Homo sapiens: one gene and its partner. The protein of the gene in region 1 interacts with the protein of each later gene in a biochemical or structural test. Each region holds a gene or a part of one and is shown in the gene's direction. Other genes may lie near its edges.

The links.
Region 2: the proteins of NR2C1 (region 1) and HDAC4 form a complex in vitro, tested with the Homo sapiens proteins (2 studies listed by BioGRID).

What each region holds. Positions count from the first base shown.
Region 1 is NC_000012.12:95,053,370-95,069,002, reverse strand, and holds part of NR2C1 (nuclear receptor subfamily 2 group C member 1), read left to right. Parts: intron 1-1,611; 5' UTR 1,612-1,618; coding exon 1,619-1,672; intron 1,673-6,115; exon of another isoform or gene 6,116-6,153; intron 6,154-6,264; coding exon 6,265-6,495; intron 6,496-9,018; coding exon 9,019-9,097; intron 9,098-10,513; coding exon 10,514-10,693; intron 10,694-11,124; coding exon 11,125-11,272; intron 11,273-11,359; coding exon 11,360-11,450; intron 11,451-15,633. UniProt on the Homo sapiens protein: Orphan nuclear receptor. Binds the IR7 element in the promoter of its own gene in an autoregulatory negative feedback mechanism. Primarily repressor of a broad range of genes.
Region 2 is NC_000002.12:239,108,511-239,124,143, reverse strand, and holds part of HDAC4 (histone deacetylase 4), read left to right. Parts: intron 1-8,833; coding exon 8,834-9,091; intron 9,092-12,431; coding exon 12,432-12,618; intron 12,619-15,633. UniProt on the Homo sapiens protein: Responsible for the deacetylation of lysine residues on the N-terminal part of the core histones (H2A, H2B, H3 and H4).

The sequences.
Region 1 (15,633 bases):
CTTTTAAGATGTAGTTTTTCTTTTTCTTTTTTTTTCTTTTGAGACAGAGTCTCTCTCTGTCACCCAGGCTGGAGTGCAGTGGCACGATCTTGGCTCACCACAGCCTCTGCCTTCCAAGTTTATGGGATTCTTCTGCCTCAGTCTCCTGAGTAGCTGGGATTACGGGCACCCGCCACCATGCCTGGCTAATTTTTTTTTTTTTTTTTATGAGACAGAATTTCACTCTTGTGGCCCAGACTGGAGTGCAATGGTGCAATCTCGGCTCACCGCAACCTCCGCCTCCCAGGTTCAAGTAATTCTACTGCCTCAGCCTCCTGAGTAGCTGGGATTACAGGCATGTACCACCACACCTGGCTAATTTTGTATTTTTAGTAGAGATGGCGTTTCACCATGTTGGCCAGGCTAGTCTCAAACTCCTGATCTCCGGTAATCAGCCCACCTTGGCCTCCCATAGTGCTAGGAATACAGATGTGAGCCACCGGGGCCGGTCCAAGTGTAGATTTTCTTGTCTTTAGGCAGCATTTTAAAGTTTTATTTGCCTACCTAGATCTTGCATGTTCCTTATTGGGTTTATGCCTGAGTGTTATGGGCTGAATTCGGTTCTCCCACAAAATCATATGAATCCCAAATTCCTATGGTGATGTCCTGACCACCAGTACCTCAGAATTGAGTATATTGGAGATAAGGCCTTAAAAGAGATAATTGAGTTAAAATTAGTTCATTAGAGTGTACCGTAATCCAAAATAACTGATGTCCTTCTATGAAGAGGACACAGACACTCAGAGGGAAGACCGTATAAACATATAAAGATACATGGAGGGCTGGGGCCGGGTGCAGTGGCTCACGCCTGTAATCCCAGCACTTTGGGAGGCCGAGGCAGGCAGATCACGAGGTCAGGAGATCAAGGCCATCCTGGCTAACACAGTGAAACCCTGTCTCTACTAAAAATACAAAAAAATTAGCTGGCGTGGTGGCAGGTGCCTAGTCCCAGCTACTTGGGAGGCTGAGGCAGGAGAATGGCATGAACCCAGGAAGTGGAGCTTGCAGTGAGCCAAGATCATGCCACTGCACTCCAACCTGGGTGACAGAGCAAGACTCCATCTCAAAAAAAAAAAAAAAAAAAAGATACATGGAGGGGTGGGCATGGTGGCTTATGCTGATAATTCCAATACCAACACTTGGGAGGTCGAGACAGGAAGATTGCTTGAGCCCAGGAGTTTGAGGCCAGCCTGGGCAACACAGTGAGACCCCATCTGTACAAAAAATAAAAAATTAGCCAGGTGTGGTGGTGTATACCTGTAGTTCCAGCTACTCAGGAGGCTGAGGTGGGAGGATCACTTGAGCCCAGGAGGTTGAGACTGCAGTGAGCCGTGATGGTGCCCCCTACACTCCAGCCTGGGTGGGCCTTGTTTTAAAAAAAAAAAAAATAAAAAAGACACATGGAAAAGGCAACCCATGAATGGAAAAAAGAAACTTCAGAAAAAGCCAACCCTCCCACCTTAACTAGATTATTTTGAAGCAAATCTTAAATATCATATAGTTTTATTTGTAAATTATTTAATAAGAGTGTTTTGTGAGTTTAATTATAAAACATCTTTTTATTTTTGGCAGGTAGATCATGGCAACCATAGAAGAAATTGCACATCAAATTATTGAACAACAGATGGGAGAGGTATGTCTAGTTTACGGTTGATGCACTGGCCCACCAAACTTTTCTAATTCCTACTAAATGCATATACCAGGTTCTGGAGTTCCAGAAATAAAAGATATTCCCTAACTTAAGATAGCTTTTCAAGCTACTGAGAGATAGTTGAATAATCAGACAATTCATAGTAGAATGTGGTAAGTTCTGTGACAGGTCATTGTATCAGGTGCAATGGGAGCACAGAAGAAAATTGAAAGGAATGAAGGGAAGGAAGGAAGGAAAGAAATTAAAGAGCTGTAGAGTGAGTAGGAATGCTTTTGAGGGAATTCTTTTTAGAGGGTACAATCTGAGCCTAGTTTTGGTGGGATCAGTAGGAGTTCAGCATCAATACTGACATCTTCATTTTTTTAAATGGTTGTGTCCTATTACTTAGTAAGAGATACCACATAATTTGGAAGTTCTCAAAGTATTATCTGGGGACACTTCAGAGAATCAACCAGGTGAAGACCATTTTTATAATAATACTGAAATGTTATTTGCCTTTTCAGTATTGTTCTCTCCCAGGTATACAATGGAATTTTCTACAGACTGTGTGACATGTGATGATACTATATGATGAAATGTGTCAGCATTTATAAGGTGTACATAACTCAATGAATCATTGCTTTCCGGATGACCAGTGTATAATGTTACAAAATTATGCATGAGTGAAGGATCCATTTAAATTGCAGGATAGACCAACAGATTTTAATATAGTTTATGACTCTACATTGCTGCTAACCTTTGAAAAGCTGCCACTTGTTGAGTTGATGTAGTGTCGAACAACTTTCACAGTTTGAAAAGGGTATTAAAATATCCTTCCCCTTTTCAACCAATAAATACGAAGCTGAATTTTCTTTAACATATATACATATATGTATGTATGTATATGTATATATATGGTGAAGAAATAGGTTTCCGGCTGATTTTTTGTGGCCATTTTTTGTGCTCACGTGCCTGGCTGATGTTTTATATATTTTGTAGCAACAGGGTTTTGTCATGTTGCCCAGGCTGGTCTGGAGCTCCTGGGCTCAAGCAGTTCACTGGCCTTGGCCTTCCAAAGCGCTGGGATTACAGGCGTGAGGTGCTGTGCCCAGCCTTGTTATAACCAAAACAACATAGTCTAACAGATTAAATAAAGAAACAGATATGAGATTCCAACTTCTGTTAAACTAGATATTAAAGCAATTTGTAGAAATGTAAAACAAAGCCACTCTCTGCACTACATTTTTGTTTGTTTGGAAAATAAACTTTTTAGTCATTAAGAAATAGGTTATAATGGGTACAAAAAAATAGGATGAATGAATTAGACCTAGTATTTGATAGCACAACAGAGGGACTATAGTCAATAATTTTTTTTTTTTTTTTTGAGACAAAGTCTCGCTCTGTTGTCCAGGCTGGAGTGTAGTGGCGCTGTCTTGGCTCACTGCAACCTCCGCCTCCCTGGTTCAATGGATTCTCCTGCCTCAGCCTCCTGAGTAGCTGGGATTACAGGTGCCTGCCACCACGCCCAGCTAAATTTTGTATTTTTAATAGAGATGGGGTTTCAGCTTGTTGCTCAGGCTGGTCTCAAACTCCTGACCTCATGATCCGCCCACCTCAGCCTCCCAAAGTGCTGGGATTACAGGTGTGAGCCCCTGCGCCCAGTCAATAATAATTTAATTATGCATTTTAAAATAACTAAAAGAGTATAATTGGATTGTTTATAGCATACAGGATAAATGCTTGAGGGGATGGATGCCCTGTTTTCCATGTGATTATTATGTATTGCCTGCCTGTATCAAAACATCTCACGTACCCCAAAGATAATACACACCTATGTACCCACGAAAATTAAAAATAAATTTAAAAAAATTATGTTAACATTTAATGGGTTGTTAATTTTTAAATGAATCAACTATTTTTAAAATTTCTCTTTGAATTTCTAACTCACATGCAGAAAACCCCATCTCTACTAAAATACAAAAAATTAGACAGGTGGGGTGGCGGGCGCCTGTAATCCCAGCTACTCAGGAGGCTGAGGCAGGAGAATCGCTTGAACCTGGGAGGCAGAGGTTGCAGTGAGCCGAGATCGCACCACTGCACTCCAGCCTGGGCAACAAGAGTAAAACTCCATCTCAAAAAAAAAGCTCTTTGGAACCCTCAGTAATATTTTAGAATATAAAGAGTCCTAAAAGCTAAGAACTGTTTACATAATTTACTACTCTTCTCTATTGAAGGCTCTTTGGATTGCCCAAATATTCAATTATTACAATTATTATGCTGCAGTAATGTCCTTTTACTCATTTAAGCAGAATGTTTCAACCCAGGAGCAGTTGGACCATGAATGCGCCAAATGCTCTTCTCTAAGAAGTCAGTATGAACTATTAGTCTTTTATCCAAACAATTTGCTTTAGACATAAACTGATTAGTGAATCAGAACTTTGTTTTAAATTTTGCATAGAAAAGAATCTTGAAATAATTTCAGGAAAATAAAAATAGAAAAAATTTGGTACAGAAGGAACAGGATTGGAATTTTGGAAAATTAGAAACAAACGGACTTTGCCATTTTAAAATTGAATCAAGGAATTTAATTGGCTTAATGATGTTTAATCTGGGATATATTTGCTGAATAACAGAAACTCTCAATGCTGAAATAGTTCTGTGTATTCATGAACTTGTTCCTCCCCCCCAGATGGCAGATGGCAGTTCTGTCCTCCCAATTGCTCAAGCCAAAATTTTATAATCATCCTTGACTCTTCTTTCTTCATATTCCCCTTCAGTCTATCAGCATTATTTTGTTACTTCTCTCTTCTTAAAATAAATAAATAATATATAAATAAGTAAGTAAATCCCAATTTAATTGTTTTTCACCCCCAGCATGGCTGCTACCCTGTTCCTGGTCAGTATTTCTGCCCATATGTCATAACCAGATATTGATGGTACCTGCAGTAGTGTCCTTTCTGATCTCCCTTAATTTTACTTCTGAACTTTTTTTTTTTTTTTTTTTTGAGACAGACTCTCACTGTGTCACCCAGGCTGGAGTGCATTGGCGCGATCTCAGCTCACTGCAACCTCCGCCTCCCTGGTTCAAGTGATTCTCCTGCCTCAGCCTCCCACATAGCTCGGATTACAGGCACATGCCACCATGCCCAGCTAATTTTTTGTATTTTTAGTAGAGACGGGATTTCACTGTGTTAGCTAGGTTGGTCTCAATCTCCTGACCTCATGAGTTGCCCGCCTCGGCCTCCCAAAGTGCTGGGGTTATAGGCATGAGCCACTGTGTCCATCCCCTTTTTTTTTTTTTTTTTTTTGAGGCAGAGTCCTCTGTCGCCCAGGCTGGAGTGTAGTGGTGTAATCCCAGCTCACTGCAACCTCCGCCTCCAGGGTTCAAGCGATTCTCCTGTCTCAGCCTCCCCAGTTGCTGGGATTACAGGCACCCGCCACCATGCCCAGCTAATTTTTATATTTTAGTAGAGACAGGGTTTCGTCATTTTGGCCAGGCTGGGCTTGAACTCCTGACCTCAAGGGATCCACCTGCCTCAGCCTCCCAAAGTGCTGGGATTATGGGCGTGAGCCACTGCACCCGGCCTACTCTTGAACATTTGCAGTCTGTTCTTCACACTAAATTTAGAATGCTTTTTTTATACTTCTTTTTTTTTTTTGAGACAGGGTCTCACTGTGTTGCCCAGTCTGGTCTCGAACTCCTGGCCTCAAGTGATTCTCCTGCCTCAGCCTCCCAAGTAGCTGGGATTATAGATAATGTCACTGTGCCTGTCTGATTCCTTTTTAAAAAATAAAATCCTGTCACTCCTCTGCTCCAAACCCTTTGGTGGCTCTCCATTTCACACATTAGGAAATCTAGACTTTTGTTTGGCCTACAAAGCCCTCTGAGTCCCAGCTGTCACTCAGATCCCATATTCTACTGTAATCCCTGTCTTCCCTTCTGTCTTACTCATCATATATCTCTATTGCTGTGCCTTGTGCCTCACATGTGTCAAACACCTCCCTCCTGCCCTGGGACCTACTTATATGCTCTGTTTCCTCTACCTGGAATGTTCTTCCCCTAGGTAGTCCTAAGCCTTGGTCTGTTTCTTCACTCAGGCCTTTGCAAAAATGACACCTCCTTAGCGTGAGCTTCCCTCATTGCCCTCATTCTGTTACTGTCTCACCTTGCCTTGTTTTTCTTCATAGCATTTAGTACCGCATGACAATATTATTATTTGCTTATTTATTATCTGTCTTTCCCCACTAAAATAAAAGCTTCATGAAGGCAAAAGTTTTGTTTTATTCACTGCTACATCCCAGTATGCAGAACAGCTAATATAAATCACCCAATATATGTTTGTCTAAATGGAACATGGGAGGGAAGGGGAAGGAGGGAATCAAAATAGTGAGGTCAAAATGTTCTTACTATTGTACCTTTGTTTGCACATTTGTTTATTTCTGTAGGATAGAATTTTGTGGCAATAGAATCGGTAGTTTAAAAGGTACGTGTGTGTTATATTGAATATATATGTAATGTGCTTTTCTAAGAAGATAATTGTGTCATTAAAGAAAAATTATTGAGTTTCATTGATTATTTTTCATGATTTTGTTAGATTGTTACAGAGCAGCAAACTGGGCAGAAAATCCAGATTGTGACAGCACTTGATCATAATACCCAAGGCAAGCAGTTCATTCTGACAAATCACGACGGCTCTACTCCAAGCAAAGTCATTCTGGCCAGGCAAGATTCCACTCCGGGAAAAGTTTTCCTTACAACTCCAGATGCAGCAGGTGTCAACCAGTTATTTTTTACCACTCCTGATCTGTCTGCACAACACCTGCAGGTAAATAACTATAGAAGTGTCTTTTCCTCTTACATATATAAAAAAAAAATTTTAATCATAAGCCCTGCCATGAAGACTTTAGATCTATGTATATTCAGTAGGAAAAAAATGCATAAAATTATGTGTAACACAGTATCTACAGTGACAGCCCTCTCCTATGGGCCACTGTACTTTCCTCACACTCATATATTTTGGGGATTCTTTGTTGCATACAGTAAGATCCACTCTGGCTATTGTAGCCAGGACAACAGCCTTTAATAAAGGATACAGAGAGCTTGCAGAATTGTTAGGAAGGTTGAAGAAACAGTTCTAGGCCAGGTTTTCAAGATCGACTATTGGAGCATGCTGCAAAACTGGCTTCTAAGAGACCTCCTACTTCATAATTAGGAAATTGTCAAATCAGGAGCAGCTTTTGTAGCTGTATTTTCCAGAACCAAGCTGCCTGTGCTACAAACAGGAAGCTGCCAAATCAAGAAGTTTGGACTATAGCTGCTGGCTTCAACATTGTGCCTCCTTTGTTGTCATGCACATCTTCATGAAATAGCAAGCAGTGCAGTCATGGGCTCCTGCTTTACTCTGGAATGAAGTAGTATATGTTAACATTACATCATTTTAGTTTTCGCTAGAATAGAAAATTACACATTATTCTTCAAAGACTCAAAAACTTTTATACACCACATGCCTGTGGTTATGTCGATGTTTTCACTGCTGGTTGCTATGATTGAATACAAATATAATGTACTCTGAAGTTTGCCTTCAGAAACTTTTTGAAGGGGGTCTACTTAAAATTGGGTTCTATCTTTTATGATGAAAAACTCACGAAAGAAAATTCCTCTTTGGATTGAAAAACTCTGAATTCATAAAACACGAAATTTTGTCTGTATATCCTGATATCATCTATTCATCCAATGATATTTGTATTAGTTTTGGAAATAAAGGTAGAAAGTGGATACAGTCACAGATTTATAAGAAGTTGTTTTATCAACAAGACAAAAGTCACAAAAAAATGTATAACATTATATGTACCTTAATTTTTCTTTAAGTAGTAGACTTGATATTTTAGAATAGTTTTAGATTTGCAGAAAAACTGAGCATATAGAACAGAGTTCCCATATTACTCCCCCGTAAATACACACAGTTCCCCTATTATTAACATTTTACATTCATGATATAATTAATGAGCAATACTGATACATTGTTAACTGAAGTTTATAGGTGTTTAGACTTTCCTTAGTTTTTGCCTAATGGCTTTGTTTGTCCCAGGATCCCATCCAGGATACCTTATTGCATTGAGTTGACATGTCTCCTGAGGCTTCTCTTGGCTAGGACAGTTTCTCAGACTTTCCTTGTTTTTGATGACCTTGACAATTACGTGAGGAGTACTGGCCAGGTATATTGTAGGATGTGCCACTATTGGACTTGGTCTGATGTTTTTCTCATGAATGTGGGTAAATCCCTTAATCTCTCAATATCTCCTTCCAGACTTAGGAATAATAGATAAAAGATTAGCACCATTTGCAACAGGTAGGCTATTAAAGAGTAATACTTGCCATAGATGCTTTCATAGGACATCTAGTACCAGAAGCTTAAGTACTTACTGAAGACTGATTTTTGTGGTGATATAAGAAGAAATGATGCTATATATTACATAGTAAGGGGCAGTCATTTTAAGAACCATTTAAAGTTCATAAAATCAGAAGTATTCCTGGAGGAATTCAAATGCCATTCCATTTTCTTTAATTGAATTTATTTGTTCACATTTCAAGATTGAAAGAAAATGATGAAAAGGTTGAAAGATAAACCTAAAGGAAGAAACTAGTTTGCTGTTTTTTGTTTTGTTTTGTTTTGTTTTTGAGATGGAGTCTCGTTCTGTCTCCCAGGCCAAAGTGCAGTGGTGCAGTCTCGGCTCACTGCAACCTCTGCCGCCTGGGTTCAAGCGATTCTCCTGCCTCAGCCTCCCAAGTAGCTGGGATTACAGGCACTCTCCACCACACCCAGCTAATTTTTTGTATTTTTAGTACAGACAGGGTTTCACCACGTAGGCCAGGCTGGTCTTGAACTTCTGACCTCAGGTGATCTGCCCGCCTCAGCCTCCCAAAGTGCTGGGATTACAGGCGTGAGCCACCGCACCCAGCCTTTTTTTGTTTTTTAAAGAAGAAACTAGTTTCCTTTGCCAGTATCTTATTAGCTGTGCCTAGTGATGAGCTTTTTAAGTCCATACCTTTGTATAGCGAGCACATCTGCATGATTATAATTACCTCAAGGAAATTTATTTATAGCCCCTTTTCTATTTAAAAGGTTTAGAGTTATCTCTTTATGCCATTATAAGCTTATTTTTGTCGTCATTACATGTGGAAAGGTTCTGAGCTCTTCATAGAGTACAAAGTTTAAAAATAACTTGTGAAAAAGAAAGCAACAAAGCAAGACCAACTGAATGTTCTTTAATTTTTTTAATAGAATGAGTGCTGTTGAGTAACAACAGGTTTTCGTTTTTGTTTTCTTTTTTTTTTTTTTTTTTTTTAGCTCCTAACAGATAATTCTCCAGACCAAGGACCAAATAAGGTTTTTGATCTTTGCGTAGTATGTGGAGACAAAGCATCAGGTAACATTAAGAATAACCTCCTAAAAACAGAAAAAAAAAATAACCTCCTATATGTGTCGTGTTGTTGAAATAACTACCACACTACCATGTTTCTTCTACTAAAAGTAAGAAGAGAAATAAAGGAGTATGTCGTTTTTATGGTTCATATTTGTAGCCTATAACATTTAACTAATTTTTTCCCAGAGTTCTTTGTTTGTGATATAGAGTCTCACTGTTGCTCCGGCTGGAATGCAGTGGCGTGATCTCAGCTCACTGCAGCCTCTACCTCCTGGATTCAAGAAATTCTCCTGCCTCGGCCTCCCAAGGAGCTGGGGCTAAGGTGCATGCCAGCACGCATGGCTAATTTTTGTATTTTTATTGGAAATGGAGTTTCACCATGTTGGCCAGGCTGGTCTCAAACTCGTGACCTCAGGTGATCCACCCTCCCCTCCTTGGCCTCCCAAAGTGCTGGGATTACAGGTGTAAGCCCCCATGCCCGGTCCCAAAGTTCTTTATTCACTTATATTTTTTAACTTCAGTGCAATTTAATATGATTTGTAATGAAATAAAATGCATATTTCACTTTTGAAAGTGAACATGTAAAAAAAAAATTTTTTTTTTTTTTGAGATGGAGTCTTGCGCTGTCACCCTGACTGTAGTGCAGTGGTGCAATCTCGGCTCACTGCAACCTCTGCCTCCTGGGTTCAAGCAATTCTCCTGCCTCGGCCTTCTGAGTAGCTGGGACTACAGGCGTGTGCCACCATGCCCTGCTAATTTTTGTATTTTCAGTAGAGACGGGCTTTTGCCATGTTGGCCATGCTGGTCTTGAACTCCTGACCTCAAGTGATCCACCTGCCTTGGCCTCCCAAAGTGCTAGGATTACAGGCGTGAGTTACCACGCCCAGCTGTAGAAACATTTTTTAATGTGAAAACTAGAAATTTTGGCAAAGGAATCATTTAAAAATAATGACTTCTGATCTTTAATAATATATTACATTAGGCCAGGTGAGATGGCTCATGCCTGTAATCCCAGCACTTTGGGAGTGGAGGCAGGAGGATCGCTTGAGGCCAGGAGTTCAAGACCAGCCTGGGCAAAATGGCAAGACTGCCTCTACAAAAAAAAATAATAATAAAACTGGTCGGGTGTGGTGGCGCAAGCCTGTAGTCCCAGCTAGTTGGGGATATCCCTTGAGTCCAGTAGTTCGAGACTGCAGTGAACTGTGATCGCACCATTACACTTCAGCCTGGGCCACAGAGCGAGATCCCGTCTCTAAAAAAGTTATGATAAATAAAAATAACTTCTAAAAATGTTTTTCATGTCAGAAGCTCAAAAATCAGTTTCATCTTATATGTTGTTTAAAGGGAAGAAATTGGCTTATGTCATTTCTGTTCTGAAATAATGTGACTTTTATATTTTCTTAAACATTTTCTCTCTAGGACGTCATTATGGAGCAGTAACTTGTGAAGGCTGCAAAGGATTTTTTAAAAGAAGCATCCGAAAAAATTTAGTATATTCATGTCGAGGATCAAAGGATTGTATTATTAATAAGCACCACCGAAACCGCTGTCAATACTGCAGGTTACAGAGATGTATTGCGTTTGGAATGAAGCAAGACTGTATGTATTAGCTTTTAAGGAGAAAATACTTTTTAAAGATTCCAGCAAACTACAAGAGTATTGAAATTAACAAAATATGTCAAATATGTATACTTTTTAGTTTACAGTTTTCCAACTAAAAATATAAGAATACAGACCTACGTATGTACTTTTTTATTTATTCAACTAATATTTATTGAATACCTGTGTAAAAAGCACGTATTTGTAGTTTGTGTTTGGCAAAAAGAATGAGAGATGCAAATTGGTTTGTTTTACTAATCTAAAGCAACTTTGTTGAACTTGCACATAATTTCTAAAGATTGATGGTTATCTTTGGAGTTTAGTATGGTAGCCATGTCTCCTATTAGCAGCATTAAGCTTACCTACAGCTTACATTTCTAATTGTCTGTAAATCCTATATTGTGATATAATAGTTTAACACATTTTTGTAGCTGTCCAATGTGAAAGAAAACCCATTGAAGTATCACGAGAAAAATCTTCCAACTGTGCCGCTTCAACAGAAAAAATCTATATCCGAAAGGACCTTCGTAGCCCATTAACTGCAACTCCAACTTTTGTAACAGATAGTGAAAGTACAAGGTAAAGTAAAACAGACACTGAGTAGCTGGTCATTTTGTTTTTCTTCCCAATGAAACTCAGGCCAAAATTTGTGCTGATTTGTTACAGGTCAACAGGACTGTTAGATTCAGGAATGTTCATGAATATTCATCCATCTGGAGTAAAAACTGAGTCAGCTGTGCTGATGACATCAGATAAGGTGTGTTTAGTACAATTTAAAGCTTAGATAATTTTAAGCATTTTAAAATGTTTTCTAATCACTTCCTTTGCTTTGGTAAATTGCTTTGTTCTTAAATATTCCATATTACAAGTTGCCTTTTTTTTTTTAATATAAATTAGAAATGTTCGGCTGGGCACAGTGGCTCACATCTGTAATCCCAGCACTTTGGGAGGCCGAGGCACATGGATCGCTTGAGGTCAGAAGTTCAAGACCAGCCTGACCAACATGGAGAAACCCCGTCTCCAGTAAAAATGGAAAAATTAACTGGGCGTGGTGGCGCATGCCTGTAATCCCAGCTACTCGGGAGGCTGAGGCAGGAGAATCGCTTGAACCCGGTAGGTGGAGGTTGCAGTGAGCCGAGATAGTGCCATTGCACTCCCGCCTGGGCAACAAGAGCGAAACTCTGTCTCAAAAAAAAAAAAAAAAAAAAAAATCAGAAATGTTCATAATTTCACTAGGATGATTATCCCTTCAACATGAAAGCAACAAACACGTACTCTTCCCTCATCTTGAAATACGAGTCCTCAGTAAGACATTTATTATAGGTGTAAAAGTCTTTTTTTTTTTTTTTTTGAGATGGAGTCTCACTCTGTTGCCGAGGCTAGAGTGCAGTGGCACAGTCTCGGCTCACTGCAAGCTCCGCTTCCCGGGTTCCCGCCATTCTCCTGCCTCAGCCTCCTGAATAGCTGGGACTACAGGCACCTGCCACCACACCCAGCTAATTTTTTTGTATTTTTAGTAGAGACGGGGTTTCACCTTGTTAGCCAGGATGGTCTCGATCGCCTGACCTCGTGATCCACCCGCCTTGGCCTCCCAAAGTGCTGGGATTACAGGCGTGAGCCAGCACGCCCAGCCGTACAATTCTTAATATTTCTTTTATGCTCCCTTACAGATTTGTTAGTGCCAAAATACTTTTTTTATTTTTTAGTGCCAAAATACTTAAAATATTTCAGGTAAAAGGAAATTCTTAGCTCACCTCCATCAAAATATTTACTTGAGTCAAGAGTAGGAATAGGACTGCAAGAGCTCTCCTTTTATGTATCCAAGTCATCCAGTTCTCTTAGAGATTGGAGCAGCTCTATGTTAGACCAAGGGTCTAAAGGAAAAACAGTTTGTTTATTTAAATTGAACATGAAGAGTTTCTGTACTTGTCAGAAGCCCTTTGGGAGAACAAGAAGCAAAAATTTCTCCTGAAAACTCATATCTGAAAACAGATTTTAGGAAGCCTATGATCAGGGTTTCTCTCAACCATGTTTGTTTTTTAAACAGGGTCCCCTCTTGTCACCCAAGCTGGGGGTACGGTGGTGGCACAGTAATGGCTTGCTGCAGCCTCGTCCTCTCAGGCTCCAGGGATCCTCTCACCTCAGCCTCCCAAGAAGCTAGGGCTGCAGGCACGTGACACTGTGCCTGGCTAATTTTTCCTATTTTTGTAGAGACCGAGTTTCATTGTGTTACCCAGCTGGTCTCGAACTCCTGGGCTCAAGTGACCCTCCCACCTCAGCCTTCCAGATTGCTGGGGTTATGTGCATGAGCCTCCCTACCTAGCTGGGATCTGATTTTTTTTTTTTTTTTTTTTTTTGAGACGGAGTCTTGCTCTGTTACCCCGTCTGGAGTGCAGTGTCCCGATCTCGGCTCACTGCAGCCTCCGCCTCCTGGGTTCACGCCATTCTCCTGCCTCAGCCTCCCAAGTAGCTGGGATTACAGGCGCCCGCCACCACGCCCGGCTAATTTTTTGTATTTTTAGTAGAGACAGGGTTTCACCATGTTAGCCAGGATGGTCTCAATCGCCTGACCTCATGATCCGCCTGCCTCAGCCTCCCAGAGTGCTGGGATTACAGGCGTGAGCCACTGCGCCCGGCCGGGATCTGATTTTATATAACCTATAAGATTATTTGTCCTGTTTATGCAAGATTTGTTATATATTTGTCACTTGATGCTTTAAGGCGCTCTAAATACTTAGGCTCGGAAATCAAATTTCATCTACCACTTACTAGCTATATAACATTAGGCAAGTTATTTGACCTCTTAGTGCCTTACTTTCTCATCTGTAAAATAAGAGTAATAAAAGTATCTTACAGTTTGGGCTTTAGCATGTAATTGCTAGGTGAGGCAGTGGCCTCTTGCCATATATTTTGGAAAACTTCACTTAGCCCTGTCTGCATGATTCAAGGTTAGAATGATAATTGGTTTTACTGACATATTAACTCCTTTAAGAAAGGAAGGGAACTAGGTTTCCTTGACAAACTACTCTGCCCAGACACTGTGCTCTCTTGTATATCTTTGTATTAAATTGTTATGACAACCGTATGGTAAGCTTCTCTGATAAATTGCCCCAAAACTCTGAAGTCACAAGATGAAAGTTTTCTATGTTGGCTAAGAGCCTTTAGGGGCAAAAACTTAAGAATCTAGTTAGAAAGAAAAATTCTTCTGCCTTGGGATCCTGTTGATCGGTGACCTTACCCCCAACCCTGTGCTCTCTGAAACATGTGCTGTGTCCACTCAGGGTTAAATGGATTAAGGGCGGTGCAAGATGTGCTTTGTTAAACAGATGCTTGAAGGCAGCATGCTCGTTAAGAATCATCACCACTCCCTAATCTCAAGTACCCAGGGACACAAACACTGTGGAACGCTGCAGGGTCCTCTGCCTAGGAAAACTAGAGACCTTTGTTCACTTGTTTATCTGCTGACCGTCCCTCCACTATTGTCCTATGACCCTGCCAAATCCCCCTCTGCGAGAAACACCTAAGAATGATCAATAAAAAAATAAAATAAAATAAAAAAGAATCTAGTTAGATATGTTGCTAGGTAGAAGAGACTATATAAGCTTCTAAGTTTTAGGTGAATATTAAAGCATTTAAAATTGTAACTAATGTACTTTTTATTCAAATATAAGAAAATTTCTTGGGGCAGTGCTTAACATTATGGGCTTTTCTGGGCACAGTGGCTCAAGCCTGTATCCCAGCAGCTCAGGAGGCTGAAGTTGAAGAGTTCCTTGAGGCTAGGAATTTGAGACCAACCTGGGAAACATAGCGAGACTCTGTCTCTAAAAATAAAAAAATTACCCAGGCATGGTGGTACATGCCTGTAGTCCCAGCTGTTTGGGAGGCTGAGGCAGAGGATTACTTGAGCCTAGGAGTTCAAAGCTGCAGTGAGCTATGATCCTGGCACTGCACTCCAGTCTAGGCGATAGGAGTGTCTCTAAAAAACACTGTCTCTTAAAAAAAAAAAAAAGCATAGACTTTGGCAGTCAGCCAGTCCCACCTCTACTATTTGGGTCATTTTTCTGGTTAGCAATAGAGGAATGATGATTTCTATTTCAGAGTTGTTATGGGAGTTAAATAAAATGCATATATAGGTATTAATTATGTAAGAACATGATAACTGGTAGGGTTTTCAGTAAATGATTTTTGGACCATTGATTAATTTGGAGAAGGCACAAAAATTATTTTATTCTACTGATTCACCAAAATCTCACAGAAACTGATTGTTATAATAAATGAAACATCATGGGAACATATGTGTTATTTTAGTATTAAGAACACCAAAAAGGGCCAGGCACAGTGGCTCACGCCTGTAATCCCAGCACTTTGGGAGGCCAAGGCGGGCAGATCACGAGGTCAGGAGATCGAGACTGTCCTGGCTAACACAGTGAAACCCTGTCTCTACCAAAAATACAAAAAATTAGCTGGGCATGGTGGCGGGCGCCTGTAGTCCCAGCTCCTCAGGAGGCTGAGGCAGGAGAATGGCGTGAACCCAGGAGGTGGAGCTTGCAGCGAGCCGAGATCGCACCACTGCACTCCAGCCTGGCGACAGAGTAAGACTCTGTCTCAAAAAAAAAAAAAAAAAAAAACACCAAAAAGAAAAAACCATGAAGAAAGTATTAATAAGAAGATACCATTAAGGGGTTGGCCCAGTAGGCCATAGAAGGCAACTTAAAAGGCTTCTCATTAGGTTAGGATGGGAAAGGATTTACAAAAGAATTTAATAAATTTAAATCAAATATATGAAAATCTATGAATTAAAAATTATACTCAGAAAAACTCATGTATCATAATTAGAAATTGCTAGGATATCAGCTTCTTGCTCTGAAAATTGATAACAAAGTAAAAGAAAAATAAAGCACTTACCTGCCTTTCCCGTACAAATTATATTTCTGAGTTGT
Region 2 (15,633 bases), on another chromosome or scaffold:
AAGCTGTTACAAGGAAGAAAGAGGATGAGTTGATGGGAGGGGAACGTGGAGAAACCTTTGGCAGATTTGGCGACAGACGGAATCATTTCTCCGTTTATTGTCTCTCCTGTGAAAGTGCCCCCCTCACTCCACCCCACCCCCGTTGCTTCCCTGGATTTCAGGACCGGTCCTGGGTTGTCCACCTGTCCGGAGGCTCAGGGTCTTCTGTGGTTTTCCTGAGGGTGAAAAATTGGGGTTAGGACTGGGGAGGAGATAGACTTTCCTAGCACACGTAGACAGGAGTTGGAAAGTGAAATACCAGGATCCCAGCAAGAGCAGAGGTAAAGCCGTGGGGAGAGACCCCTACACCACCAACACTGCTGCCTCTTCCCGCAGCCCTGACCTCCTGATACCATTAGCCCCTCCTGCCTGCCTGGTCCCAATTTCCTTCTCTCAAGCCCCACAGTTCCAGCCCAGAAGAGGAGTCAGCTCAGCCCTGGCGCAGTGGTCAAAGGCTTTGATTGCGTGGTGTCCGGTCCAGTGGGGCTGAGTCGGGGAAGGCCCCTGGGAGATGGCAGCCGGCTGTGGCCCAAATCCATCCTAGTGTGTGAGCCATCATGGGGCTGCAGGCTCAGGATTGAGGAGATGGGCCCCTTGGGGCCTTGCTCCAGGGTGGCAGCCACGTCAGACCAGATGCCCAGCACAGGCCACAGCCTGGCCCCTGCTGCCCACTGGACACCACAAAATAGGCTCACCACCCCCACCCCACATGCCCCTCCACCCCCAAGCCCTCATCAGCGGACAGCAGGGAACGCATCAGAAATGGATGGGGCACCCAGCAAATCCCCTCATTGGGACGGGAAGGGCACAGGCTGTGGGCGTGTCGGGCGCCTGCCAGGCATCTTTACTCCCAGGTGTCAAAAGCACTTTCACATCCGTCTTCCTAATGCCAACTTAGGTTTGTTAATTTTATTATGTCATTATCTGAGTGATGGGGTAGGAGGTTTGAGGAAGACAGGAAACACCTATTCACATGCCGTATACTCTTGAAGGATTTAGAAACCGGGTACTCTCACTGGAGTTTGTTCTCTGATTGATTTACGGGAGTGAATGACAGTTGATTGAAACGTTTAGACAGTGTTTTCCCAGGATGCCCAGGAAGACAAGAATCTTGCCCAGGGCCGCCTAACACTGACGTCCCGGCCCTTCCTCTTGGAGGATGACGTCCCCAGGGGCTTGTTCCCTGAGGGCATCTGCCCAGCTCTGGCAGCTGTGAACCCTCCTGTCCCACTGCGCTGCTCCAGCCTACATTGGGGTTGCAGCTGGGGCCGGCTTGGTCTGCCCCTCCTTCAGCCTGTACCTTAGAGGGCAGTTGTTTTGGAAACATCACTGTGAATAAAAAAGAAAGAGAGGCGGCCCGTGCCTAGCCCTGGTGTTCCCTGCAGCCATATGTAGCCACTCTAGTTTTCCCGAGGCCTGCAGCCTGCAGAGCTGCCCCTTTTGGCTGAGAAAACTCCACCAGGTGGACAGGATCGACCCCGAGCTGGCTCTGCTCTCCTCTCCCCAGCCTGTGGTCGGGATGGTGGCAGATGTTTTCCAACTGTGTCAGCTTCTGTTGCCCGTGCCTTGTATGCAGTGGTGTTTATAAGGGTTTGCTGCATGAAGGAACTTTCTGGAGAACGCACACCATCAGAGGGCGAGTGGACCTTGGAACTCTGCAGGTGAAACTGGCCCTCCGTGTTCGCTGGCCACGTCCGGACTTGGCCTCAGTTATGTCTGGTTTGCGAGCAGTGGGTGATGTGTGTCCAGGCGAAATACCTCTTTCTATTAAAAGAGGACGTTCGTTGGAAGGTGTCCTCCACCCCTACAGCAAGAAGCCTTGCTTCTCAAGGTGGTTCTTCCCATGGTTTCTGGACTCTGCACAAGAACCTGCCTCCTGCAGAGCGGAGGGCCTCGGGTGTGTTTCCCTTTAACTTGACATCCTCGGTTTTGAATATGAAAACTTGGACTCATATTTTGGGTGGTCTAATTACGAGTGTGTCCGATTGTTTTAAAATACTGGCAGTTTACCAGTTCGGTTTTGGCCGTGAACTCCAGCCTGACTTTTTAAAAATGTAATTATTCCAAATATGGAGGTGCATTTGTTCTTCCTGAATTGATGAAAGGGGCTCTCAGTGTCCCCAAGGCCTTCGGGCTGCACAGAGCTGCTTCAATTGTTTGCCCGCGTCCGGCTCACCTCCCAAAGCCAGCTCTGCAGTGCAGCCCCAGCCCACAGCCCAGCCAGTGAGACTCAGAACTGAATGTCAAAGGAGAGAGAGAGAGAGAAGCAGGCTTTGTTTGCAGCCATGGCCCAGGGAGGTGACCCACAGGCGCCTGCGTCAGTGCCAAGGCAAGGGGCCTGGCCTGCGTCACAGAGGGCTCTGACGTGGCACCACTGCCAAAGTGACATCCTCCTCAGGCCCTGCCTGAGAGCCCTCGCCGGAGGCCCACGGTGTGGAGATGATCCCTCCTCCAGGCCGAGGGGCGTGCGGCAGCGGGGGACACTTCAGAGGCTTCATCCTCGTGAAAGGGAGGAAAAAGACCTGGGAATGTTGTCACTAAAGGACACTAAAGAGATGCGGCCCCTGGCAGCACACGCCATCCGCAGCCAGCCGGGGAAGGGCCATCCAAGAGCCCTTGGAACAGTGGGGAGGTCTCCTGATGCACAGCACGGTAGACGCGGCTGCCGAAAGCCTCAGGCAGGCAGGTTGCAGTGGCCTTGGGGCCCCTGAAACAGCCCCCCAGGAAGAGAGGCTGACCCCCGCTATGACCCCCACTACCTCCACCGCCATTCATCTGTGCATAGGGGAAGGACGTTTGAGATTTTCTTACAGAGTTCTTGAAGTTTTTCTTTAAGTTTGAAATTTAAAGCTGGGCATGGTGGCTCACACCTGTAATCCCAGCACTCTGGGAGGCCAAGGTGGGTGGATCGTTTTGGCTCAAGAGTTCGAGACCAGCCTGGGCAACCTGGTGAAATCCCGTCTCTACAAAAATTAGCCAGGCAAGGTGGTGCATGCTTGTACTCCCCAGCTACTCAGGAGGCTGAGGTGGGAGGACTGCCTAATGCATGACTGCACTCCAGCCTGGGCAACAGAGCAAGACCCTGTCTCAAAAAAAAAAAAAAAGAAATTTAAAGGAAAGCATCAGAAGAAAAGTCTTGGAGCTTCTGTGTCCACCGAGTCCTCCCTGGGCCGTCTCCTTTAAAAGGCAAACAGACAAACCCTTTTCCTCGATCAGCCTGGCTTCCTGGGAGTGGCCATTTGCTGCAGGAACCCCTCCCCTCCACCCTCAGCTGCCTTGTCCTCCACCCCACCCTAGAGAAGGGACCTGCCTCTGTGTCCTCTATGGGGTTGCTGCCCTCCATCACTTTTATCCACTTCAGAATGGCCCCTGGGCTGCTAAAGAAAGGCAGGCACACCACTTCGGTCATTGCTGGGATGGGGCAGCCCCACAGGGTCCCCTCTAAGGTCCTAGCCTTCCTCCCCCACCCCTCCCCCTATTTCCCTTCCCCGCCCCCCCATTTCCCTCCCCCACCTTCCTCCTTCTCCCCTTGCCCTTTCCTGGCATTGTACCCACCCTTCTGCTGGCCCTCTGGTCTCCTCTCCTTGTCTCTGTGTGCCTGTGCCTATGTGTATTTGTGTATCTGTGTATCTGTCTCTTCATGTGTATATGTATCTGCATGTCTGTCTATTTGTGCATCTGTCTGTGTCTGTGTGTGTGTGTCTGTGTGCGTCTGTGTGTGCCTCTGCGGGTATATGTATCTGTGTGTGTATGTATCTGTATGTGAGCCTCTGTGGCCTCCCTGCTTCCCGACACCCTACCACTGGTCCCTGAGGCCTCATCCCTGTTTCTTCAGCTCCCCAGCTCTGCGTAGCTCCTCTGTGCTCCCAGCTTTGACTTTATTCCACCTGCGTACTGCTCCAGTTCTGATCTGTCTCCCAAATCCCAGACTCGAATCTGCACTTTCTTGCTGGATTTCTCAGGGCCCCACCGGATGCTGGGATTCAGCCTCTCTGAGCTGCCCTCTACCCACCTCCCCGTCCCGGGGCCAGCACCTCCTCTGTGGTGGCCCTTCTCTGGCACTTGGCCAGGAGTCCTGGTGCCTCCTGCTCACTCTCCTGTCCACGGGTGGTCCCCACTGCCTTCTCTGGCACTTGGCCAGGAGTCCTGGTGCCTCCTGCTCACTCTCCTGTCCACGGGTGGTCCCCACTGCCGCTGGACCCAGCCTCTGTGCCAGCCTCTGCCCGGCCCTGCTGCCTCTGTGCAGTCGCTTCTCTGCAGGCATTCCCCTGCCCTCGCGCTGACTCATTAGCACCTTCCTGTGGCACAGGCAGGACCATGCACCCCTCGGAGAGACCCGCAGCCTCTCCTGCCCATCCACTGATGAGCAAAGCCCACATTGTGAGGAGCCCTCTGAGGCCCTGAACACCTCCTCAGCCCTGAGCTCCCATCTCCGTGTCCTCAGCCCTTAGGTCTGGTCCCCGCACCCTCAGCCCTGAGCTCTGAGCTCCCATCTCTGCGTTCTCAGCCCTGAGCTCCGTTCCCCTTAGCTCCAGTTCCCGCGCCCTCAGCCCTTAGCTCTGGTCCCCACACCCTCAGCTCTGAGCTCTGGTCCCCGCGCCCTCAGCCCTGAGCTCTGGTCCCCGCACCCTTAGCCCTGAGCTCCTGTCCCCATGTCCTCAGCCTGTGGTCTGAGCCCTGTCTCCTCATCCTTAGCCTGTTGCTTTTCCTTCCACACCTGCAGCCTCCAGGACATTCTTGCTTCCTGAAGGCCCGTCCTGGCTGCTGCTCTCCCTCCTCCCGAATCCCTCCTGCTCCTCATCCAGGGCATTGTCCTCAGCGCTCTGTGCCACCTTCTTAGGGAATTGTTCTGCTTTCAGATTCTTTGTTCTTTGCTCTCCCTCCGGTGCACCGAGTGATAAGGGCCCCGCTCTCAAGAAACCTCCCATACACCACTCAGTCAGTCACATCCCGTTACACATCAGACTGCACCGGGCCCTGGGGGAGCTGCAGGAACTGAGCGTATGGGTGCCCTCTTGATGAGTGTCCTGAAAGCCAAGACTTGGATGCCATCTTCGAGGTCCCCTGTGAAACAGCGCTGCTTCACCCGGCGCCCCTGCTGCACCTGGCACCCCTGCTCACAGCGACAGCGGTACCGCCAGGCTCCCTGTTCTCCCTGCCCCCCACAGGGCCTCTCAGGCTCTCAGTGTGCAGGAAGAAGATGGGACTGAGAAACCAGAAGCAATCACAGACCTCAAAATCATCAAGTGAAACTAGTGTTGAAACACATGCTTTTTTTGGTCAACCACTGAGAAACCTGTCAGAGCAAATGGGGACAATGTTGCTAGATTCCTTAGTTGAACTTGTTTCTCCCCGGCTTTGTGAAAGTCTAACCGGAAACAGTCGCATGTATTTACAGCGTACGGCGTGATGATTTGATACTTGTATGCGTTGTGAAATGATCGCCACAAGGGACCTCATCCATGCCCCCTTGGCCTCACGGGGCTCTCATTGTGTCTGTGGTAAGGTCCGTGAATATCGGGGCCACCAAACTGTGCATCAGGTCCCGGAACTTATTCCTCTCCCAACGGCACGCTCACCCGTGGACAGCACGTTCCTGTTCCCGACGCGCGGCCACCCACCGCTGCACTCTCCTCCCTGCGAGTTTGGCTTTCTGAAGCTGAGTTCCTTACGTGCCACGCCGCCTACTGGTTCCCACACTGCCGATGGCCGGCCCGCCCCGACACCCACGCTGCCTGCACCCGGCTGGACCTGGCTCCATTTCCCTGTGCCAGGTTGAAAGCTTTTCTGAAGAAAAGCTGCCTTCGGTTTAGAGATAAACAATGGATCTGCGTTTTCTTCACTCGGCTTTTACTGCCGTACTTTAAACTGCTCTTAGAAAGAAAGTTAAGGGATGATCAATCATAAAACAAACCCCCCGCCCAATCTGAAGTCTCTGATGTTCCACAGTGAGGCACAGCAGGGCTCTGGAGGCTGAAAACTCACCATGTTGTGTGTGTGTGAGTCTGCGTCTCAGCCCTGCTGCGTGGGGACCGGTGTCGTCTGATACGGCTGACCCCTGGGAGCAAGCGGACACTGAGTGCCCACCAACCCGTGCCCCGTAGTTCAGGCTGCTGGAGAGGCCGCCTCGCGTGAGTGTGGAGCAGCATGCAGTGCTCTAAGGGTGTTGAAATGCAAGGGCTCGGGGGATTTCAGGTGTCAGTCTTCCTTGCACACCTCAGTTTCCTTCTGGAAACAGTCGGATGCGGTGCCGAGATCCATCCTCCACGCGCTGTAGCTCCTCTCTCTGCCAGGAACTCGGCTTGTCCCACCGTCCCTCGAATCTGCCCTTCAGGCCGTTCCCCACGGGGACAGATGAATCGAGCATCCGGAGAGACCCCTCGATCTGGGACTTTGGGATTGTGGGACGTTCTTTCACAGTCTGCAGAGGAATGCAGCTCAGTCAGTGCCTTCTTCTGAGAAACTCCCTGTGCGCCCTTCCTAGTCTAACTCCAGACCCCCGCCCTCTCTCCTGAGCTTTTTTTTTTTTTTTTTTTTTTGCCACTTCCCGCATCCCTCTCTCCCCTCTTGTTCTCAACTCCAGCCTTTGCTCTGCTCACATTCATCCCTTTTCTGGCTCCCAGATGTGATGGGGCAGCTCCATTGCCCAAAACGAAGGAGTTGTCCTGGCCACCCTCTCTTGCCTCTCCATATGCAGTCTGTCCCTGGGCCTAGAGCTGCTTCCTTTTTGGTGTCATGGAAACCTGTTCTTTCTCCCATGCCTTAGCCAGACGTGGGGCTGGCCTCACCCTTTCAACCTCTGGCCTGTCTGCAGCAGGGCATGCTTCTAGAACGTGCACCTGCTTGTTTTCAGCCCAGAGTGCCCTTCCCACAGCCCCACCTCGTCTCCGGCACCCTGTGTTCCTGTTCTCTGGCCTTCCACGCTGCAGCCCTGCTGGCTTCCCACAGCTCCCAGAGCGCATTGAGGTCAGCCATACACCCTGTTCCACTTTGCCCCACTACGCGGACACCCCTTGCATTTGCCCCATCCTTTTAGTGAATGTGCGATGAGCAATGCCTGTGCCACGTGGATGAGTCAGAAGTGGTCCCTACCCTCCTGGGAACTGCAGACTGCAGGAAAGATGGATACATGAATGGCAACCACAGAAAAGCCAGAGGACTGGGGTCGGGGGGTGCTGGAGGAGGGCACATTGCCCTATCAGGAAGATCAGCTGACCCTGGAAAAGGTGACATGCACGGGAGGCTCACAAAGCCTCTTGGAGTGGCTGGAGGCCGAGGAAGGAAGGCAAGCAGCGGGCTGGAGGCGAGTGTGGCATGAGGGATGCAGAGCCAGCGGCGTGGTCGGGAGCAGGGTGGCAGGGAGGCTGCAGGGGCAACATGGCCACACGATGGAGGGGCTCTTCAGCAGAGGCAGGATGGCAGAAGAGCACTTGGGGGACATTCAGCAGGGGAGTGACCAGGTCCACTGGCCCGTTTGAAAGCGTGCCCTCACTGCTACATGAAGAAGATTGCAAAGCGTTGACGCTGGAGGTGGGGGCCTCCCAGGAGCCATGCTGTCATCCAGGCAGGAGAGGCCAGGTGGGGCAAAGCAGGAAAGGCAGGAGGTCGAGGCTGGAGAGAAGCAGCACCGTCCAGAGGCGTTTCTCGTGAGCAATGCATGGGCAGTGCTTGGCGGACAGAATTGGGAGCTTGGGGTGTGACTGGACAGCTGGCCAGAGAGAGGTCCCAATAGCCAAGAACAGGTCCTAGAGAAGGGAGAGGCTTGGAAGAAGCTGCCCTGCGTTCGGCATTGGACCTGCTGTGCTGGGGCTCATGGGCACTCTAGGCTAAGCTGAGGCGTCTGGCAGGCCATTAGGTCTGGAGGTAAAGAGCGAGTTTGGGCTCAGCACCACCTTTGGGAGTCGCTGATACTTGGAATCCAGAATGGGGAAATGAGCCGAGGAGCAGGCCCAGGACAAACCAAGACGGAGGAGCAGGCGGGGAGCAGGAGAGGAGCACCTGCCGCCTGTTCCGCACTGAGAGGCCGGGGAGGGAGACCGAGAAGCGTCCGTGAGATCCAACAGGAAAAGAGGTCGGGGGCATCTAGGGAGTCCCACAGGAGGGAGGATGTTGCGGTTCTTGGGGCCCCATAGCGGGGCAGGTCATGGAGCACCCATGGAATCCTGCAAGAAAGGAGGTCATGGTGTCCCTGAGATCCTGCAGAAGGGGAGGCCGTGGCATCCCTGGGATTCAGCAGGAAGGGAGGTCCTGGAGTGTTCCCAGGATCCGGCAGGAGGGAGGTCATGGCACATCGGTGGGATCCTGCAGGAGGGGAGGCCGTGGCGTGTTGGTGGGATTGGGCAGTGAGCATTGTGGACGTGGTTGTCTTCCGCTGAGTGGGTGGTGGGCTGTTTCTCTTAGCAGTTGTGGCTGTGAGGTCAGCATTGGCCTCTCCCCTTCACACTCAAGCTCTCCTCTGCAGACTCTGTTGACACCTGCAGCTTCTTTTCTGTTTCTCGGTGCCTGACACAGAAGAGGTGCTTAGTAAACCCCAAATGTTAGTCAGCCTCCTTCCCTGGGCCAGGTCACCTTGACCCTGGGCTGGGGTCCTACTGGGCATTATTTTCTTAGGCACTCAGGCACCCCAGTGCCTGTTGGGAGATAAAGGTGCCTGCTGGCCTGTGGCAGGGTGATAAGGTGCCCTGAGTCCCTGATTGTCTGCCCCAGAGGGTGGGGTTTGCAGCATCCCTTCTCCTGTCAGATGAGCTCAGAGGACCCAGCTCTCTGTGCTTCATGTGTTACCTCCGCCTTGCAGATCATCCCCAAGCCAAGCGAGCCAGCCCGGCAGCCGGAGAGCCACCCGGAGGAGACGGAGGAGGAGCTCCGTGAGCACCAGGCTCTGCTGGACGAGCCCTACCTGGACCGGCTGCCGGGGCAGAAGGAGGCGCACGCACAGGCCGGCGTGCAGGTGAAGCAGGAGCCCATTGAGAGCGATGAGGAAGAGGCAGAGCCCCCACGGGAGGTGGAGCCGGGCCAGCGCCAGCCCAGTGAGCAGGAGCTGCTCTTCAGACAGGTGACCGCAGGCGGGGAGGGCACCAGAAGGCTGGCACGCACAGCCACCCTCGGTCCCCAGGTGGCATCTTCTGTGGTGATCACGGGGGCTGCAGGGCATCCTTGCGCGGTCACTGTCCAGTGTCTCACCTGTCTTGTCCTGGCCAGTGAGGGAGGTTGATGTGGCTTCCATTTTGTCCCAGCCGTTCCTAGGGATACGAGATGTTTGCCCCCTGTGGGTGGTTACGTAACTGCTTTCCAGCCATGCGCAGGCCCCAGAGAATGGATTTCCTTCCTGTCTGTAGGCTGTAAATGAACACAGAATCCATGTGTTAGTGAGATACAGCATGCTTTTTAAAGAAGTGAAGGAACTAGAGGTATTAATTGATCAAAAAGGCAGGCAGGGCCTGATCAGAAGTCAAGACCTTTTGTGACCCAGAGGTGCTAATGAGCAGCCCTGCAGATCCAGACAGACGGGTGCGATTGTGGCACCCAGAGCCAGTAAGGCTTCAGGGCACTGACACCCAGTAACCAAACTCACAGGAGACTGATGAAGAAGGCCAGTGAATGACTGGTTAATTTCCATTGAAACATTAAACTTCTGAGTCAGCAGAAATACCTAAGGCATTTGGGCAGCCAGCTGGAGCCCCGTATCTGCAGCTAGAGTGCCCTCAGGAAAGTGGCTTCCTCCCTGTAGGCAGGAAGCCAGTCCGAGGAACCACAGCTCTGTAGGATTTGATTCTATCCTCCAGCAGCAGAGCTGCTGCCTCGGCTGCAGGAGCCACTGGCTCGTTCCCTCCCTTCTCTCTGGACTCCATGCCGGCCGTGCCGTTGAGCACCTCCCCAGCTTCCTGACTGCCAGCTGTGTGGCCAGACGCTGCATCTCCACCCCCAGCAGCACCTTGGAAGCCAGGAGCAGGACGCCCTGCAGTAAACTGTTCCCCTTAATTCTCAGCTACAGTTCTTAAATGCTTGCCACTGAATGAATCAGTGTGGGGCCTTGTACCTGGAGCACCTAGACCCAAGCCTGCCACACACGGGATCAGTGCTCAGTGGTCTCCAGAGGCTTCTGGGTCAGGAGCCCTTCTCCACCGAGCTTCCCCCAGTGGCTGGCATTGGGTGCTATTTCTCCTTCTTGTTCAGAGGGGGGCCTGTCTCTAATTTCTGGGCCTTCTTAATTAGCACCCCGGGCACTAAACACTACAAAGCCCAGCAGAACTAACGCTTGGCAAAGACAGAGAGAGAAAGCCCCGGGCCTCTCTGGCACACACACGGTGCTTCATGGTGAACACTCGTCCACAGGTCCTGTCCGACAGGCCCAGGGTGGGGGCCTCTTCCTGTGGTCGGGCCTTGTAAGTTGATGAAGATCTGAAATTCAGTGTGCTATTATTAGGCTGATAAGAAATGGGAAACTATTTACATTAATAATTTTTAGGGCTAGTTTCTCATAGATCAGCCTTTACTTTGAGAAAAAGAGGCTTGTTATATTCCAAGCATGAGATGATTATTAGAAACACTTATTTTCTGTTCTCTCTGGAGAGTAATAGGCAGAACCCCTTATCAGGGAAACGTCGTAGTACACGGAGCAATTTGCCGAGGTAAACATAAGGCGGGGCACCTCCAGCCCGCGTCGGGGAGGATTGCTTATTAACCACTTAACCGCGTGGGGCCCACGGCAATCCCAGCTGAATTTGGTCAGCAGCAGACTGGGGGCCTGTGGGTGCTGGCTCCTGCTCCAGCTCCTGCTGCAGCTCCTCCCACTGTCTCAGGGCTTCCTTCTTCTCTGCTCCCTCCTGGCTCTGATTCCTTTTGTGTGTGTGTGTGTGAGACAGAGTCTCACTCTGTTGCCCAGGCTAGAGTGCAGTGGTGCCATCTCAGCTCACTACAGCCTCCGCCTCCTGGGCTCAAGCAATTATTCTGCCTCAGCCTCCCAAGTAGCTGGGATTACAGGCACCCACCATCACGCCTGGCTAATTTTTTGTTTGTTTGTTTGTTTTGTTTGTTTGTTTTTTTGGAGAGATGGGGTTTCACCATTTTGGCCAGGCTGGTCTCGAACTCCTTACCTCAGGTGATCCACCCGCCTCAGCCTCCCCAAGTGCTGGGATTACAGGCATGAGCCACCACGCCCAGCCTGATTCCTAAAGGCAGGACAGATCGGAGCCTGGCCGGGTAGCTCTGGTTTCCCCCAGTGCTGGCAGCACAGGGCTGGGCTCTGCCTTCATACAGGAGCTGGGATGTAGGTACCTGGTTTTCCATGTTCACAGGATTTGTTCATCAAAACTAAGACAGGATTGGCGCAGAGCTCCCAGCAAGGAGGCGCCCGGCTTTCTTTGTGCCTCGGCCTGGGTGGCAGGTTGCTGTGCTCTCCCTCAGCTGCTGTCTGGGGAGAGGCTTGGCAGCTGTGACCTCATCTCTGCCCTGCTCCCTCCACTCCACTCTGCCTCGTATGGGGGTTTGCACCTCAGCCTGTTCCCAGAATCCCTCAGGGTGTCCCAGGCCCCTGGCTGAGTGCCCCCCCCACACACAGAGCCCAGCCCAGCTCCATCTCATCAGAGAGGCACATCCCCACCAGCAGGCCTGCTCTAGGCCCCAAAGGTCCTGGGTGCCCAGAAGCTGATGGGCTGTTACTGCTTTTAGCCTGCACGAGGGTGTGTGGGATGTGAGACCAGGGAGGGGAGCGGCTGCAGATGAAGCCCAGTTGGCACTTTCAAGTCTGAGAGCCGATGGTGCTTTCTCGCCCAAGTTTGGCATGCAGATTCAATGCTGTTGGTCAGAACTAAGACCCACAAACCCAACAAGGGGGTTGGGCTTCGTGCCCACTCACCGTATGTGTGTGGTATGGCAGAGTGGACGCTGTGGTCCCCACATCTACATGGCCTTCGCATATCCCCCAGTGAAACCAGCGAGGGCCAGGCTGCCGCCCCAGCAAGAGCTTCTCTCCACACCTGCCAGGCCCTACTCCCCTGCACCTGCTCCAGGCTGCTCCTGGCTCAGCACCTCCTCAGAGAAGCCCTCCTTGATACCCCATACTGGGCCAGGCCTCCCTGGGACCCCCTGACTCAACCTGTGTTATCCTGTTAACGTAACCCATGGCAGGATCCCACGTGGACAGCCTGCCTTCCCTAGAGAGACCGTCCTGGGAGGCAGAGCCTGTGCTGGCCTCGTTCTTGGCTCTGGGCCCACTCAGGCTTCAGGGCACTCACAGGGAAGGCCTCTCCACGCAGCTGGCCTCCCGGCATCCTTGTGGCCCATGTATGGCCTGTGCGTGGACGGGAGACTTGCAAGAGAGGGCAACCCCTAGCCCTGCAGCCCAGGGGCGGGAGACATCCGCAACCGCCAACACGGCCGTTTCTTCCCCGCAGCAAGCCCTCCTGCTGGAGCAGCAGCGGATCCACCAGCTGAGGAACTACCAGGCGTCCATGGAGGCCGCCGGCATCCCCGTGTCCTTCGGCGGCCACAGGCCTCTGTCCCGGGCGCAGTCCTCACCCGCGTCTGCCACCTTCCCCGTGTCTGTGCAGGAGCCCCCCACCAAGCCGAGGTTCACGACAGGTAACACGTGGCCTTTGTGCAGCCTGAGGGTGCAACGCGGGCCACAGTGGGCACAGCGCGGGGGGCTCTTCCCGGCCCAGCTCTGCAGAGGCTGAGGAGGGGCTGGGCAGGCACGAGGGCCACGCTGGATGGTGGGGACCACACAGGTCTGTCACAGAGGCCCTCTCCCCGCCCTACACCCCACACCTTCAGTTCTGTCATGCTGGGGACCTGTCACGGGCTCACTTGCCCACTTTCCTGTCCCAGAGACCCATGGTCTCCTCCAAGAACAGTCCACAGCCCATGCCCGTGGGGCCATGAGAACCTACAGCTTCTGGTCCGGCTCAGGAATCATGAGCCCACGCTTCTCCGCTTACTCCCTCACACTTCGCCCACGTCCACAGCGTTGACGCTGAGGCTCCAGTGACAGGGCTGTGAATGGCTGGCGGGGGGCTGTGATTACACGAGAGCAGAGCCCGGGACCCCTGGGACACGCTGTGGGAGCCACACGTCCTCTGTCTGTGCCATCCCTCATACCATCCTCACCCCGGGGAGGCGATCTGCCAGCAGGGGTCCTTGGTTTTCCCTCACAAGAAGGAGGCAAGTAAGGCGTCCACCACGGCTGAGGAGGCAGGAGGGGCCGGGCCCTGGACTTGTCTGCCTGGAGCTAGCCAGAGCCGGGGAGGAGACTGCTGTCCTGGGCCGCCCCGCCACCCAGCCACCCCTGCAGGGGAGAGGAGGGAAGGAGGGCTGGCTTCTGGCAGGGCTTGCCTCTGAGACAAGCACAGAGGCAGGAGCGCTCTTCATGTTGTTATGATCTAATATTTCTTGTTAATGACGCACTAAGAAAAATGTTCTGTAAATACAGCACGGCTTCATTCTTCAGATGATTCTCATCACGTGGCTTAGTGTTCTGCAGTCTGCGAGGTTCTCACTCTCAGGTCTTAGAAGGATGCTATTCATATTCAGAGACAAATTTCCAGAGTAGGTATCCAGCAAGTAAAATGCTGCTTCTCAGAAAGAAAACCATGGAAGGTCACAGGAGCAGCCAGATGACCCACTCCACAAGTCCTGGGCAGCTGACTGCAATAAGTGTGTTCTTGAAAGAATGCAGCTCAGACAAGGGAGACCCCAGTCACCGCCACCAAGGAGAATCCTCCCACTAAGCTGGCCCACCCTGGCTGGTCCCAGGAGACTTGCAGGGAGTCCCGCTTCGTTGGTGTCCTTTCTTAGTTTGTCTTGATTACTTTTTAAACAAATTTATAAAACAGTACATGTTCATTGTAAAGAAAAACATGATAGAAACCCACAGGAAATGCCGTTTGCCCGTAATGCCACTCCCCAGTGGTGGCAGGTTGTTAGTATTTGCTTTAAACCTTCCAGATCTATTTCTGTGCATAGCCAGATGGACAGATAGACACAAACATAATTTGTTTCACAGAGACGGGACTCTGTTGTGTCTGATGCTTTCTGTTAGTACCTCACACTCTCAGCCATCTTCCCGTGTCCGTGCACAGCGACGCAGTGCGTTCCTTTAGCCACGTGGTCTCCTGGCTGGCTCTGCCACCCTCAGCTGTGTGGGCTTTGCCGCTTCTCCATCTCTCTACGCTCCAGCTTTTCTGTCTGTAAAGGCAGTAAAGCAGGTGTCTGCCTCGTAAGTTCCAGCCGTGTGCTTAGTAAATATTAGCGCACGTGACCTTATCATGATGATTCCACTGTAGGGGCAGTCCCCATTCCTTGTATCCGTGAGCAACTGGTTGTTTCTGCACACACACTTACGTATTTCACGGGGCAGTGTCCGTCATTGCCTATGTGTCTGTGTTGCCATTACAAACTCCCAAGCACAGCCATGCCCACACACAGTGTACTGATTGTGAGTCCTAGTTTCATTGACTCCTGTAAGCCTGCACCTACCCTGATGCTTTTTTTTTTTTTTTACCAGAAGTCCCATCCCACAGCACTGTTGTGCAAGTACCTCCAGAATTCCTCAAGTGCAGGAGACTGACTCCTGTTAGCCTGACTCACAAGAGGCTGAGCCAGGAAGTATGGGAACTAATATGCACCAAGTGTATCCTGTAGCTGGACCCTGCAAACACTGGACCACCTTGAATCTCAGCTCCCCTTGGCTGGGGATGCTGCCTGTGTTCCCAGTAATAGGAACACAAGTGGGGAGGGCCGCATCCTGGGCCAGCACACTGAAGCAATAGAGCAGGTCTGTCTGGGCAGCTTGCCCAGGCTCTTCACCGTGCGCCCCGCCCTTATCAGCCTGGATGAACCCACATTAGCACAGGTGCCCCTGGCCAGTGACCTGCCTGCGGAAGGCGTCTGTTCACCCAGCCTGGCCTTCCCTTTGTTAAGTCCTGGAAGACCAGGTGTGTGCAGCACAGACATGTCCCGGCAGGGCCTCGGGGCAGCCCTCCTGCCAGGTGTCACCAGGGGCCAAGGCCTGGTGAGAAGGGGCCGGGGCAGAGCTGTGCCCCGGAGGGCCACCTGGCCTTCCCTCGCATCTCTAGCCTCTGCAGACAGGTCAGATACTCTCCCCTTCACAGCGGTCCCACGTATGCTGACTGAGACAGGGTGGCATCCAACACGGGTTCAGGCACATTGCCTTTCCTGCTGCAGAGCCCCAGGCTGCCGGCCCAGTTGGTTCTGGGGCCCCCACCAGGAGCCTCTTCTGTGGCTGCCGCACCCTGGGGGCCCGTCCATGCTGAGCTCAGTGCTGTGGTGAGCACATGGCTGGCCTCTTTTCACAGTCAGAGGTTAAGTAGACCTGTGTACATGGGTTTTGCGTGTGTTTTCTAGCATATGTGTTCCAGTCCCTCTGGAAGTTTCTAAAGGCAGAGCTCGAATCTGGTGTTTCTTTGGAATCTCAAGTACCTTGGACAGTTCTCCGTCCAGCAGAACTGGAGTTACTATTGGTCCAGGACCAGGCAGACTTTGAGGGTAGGGGGCTAGAGTCGCCTCCTTCTAGAAGTCAGCACCGTCCTCCCCAGCACAAGTCCCACATAGAGCTCACCCCTGCAAGGTCCAGCCACC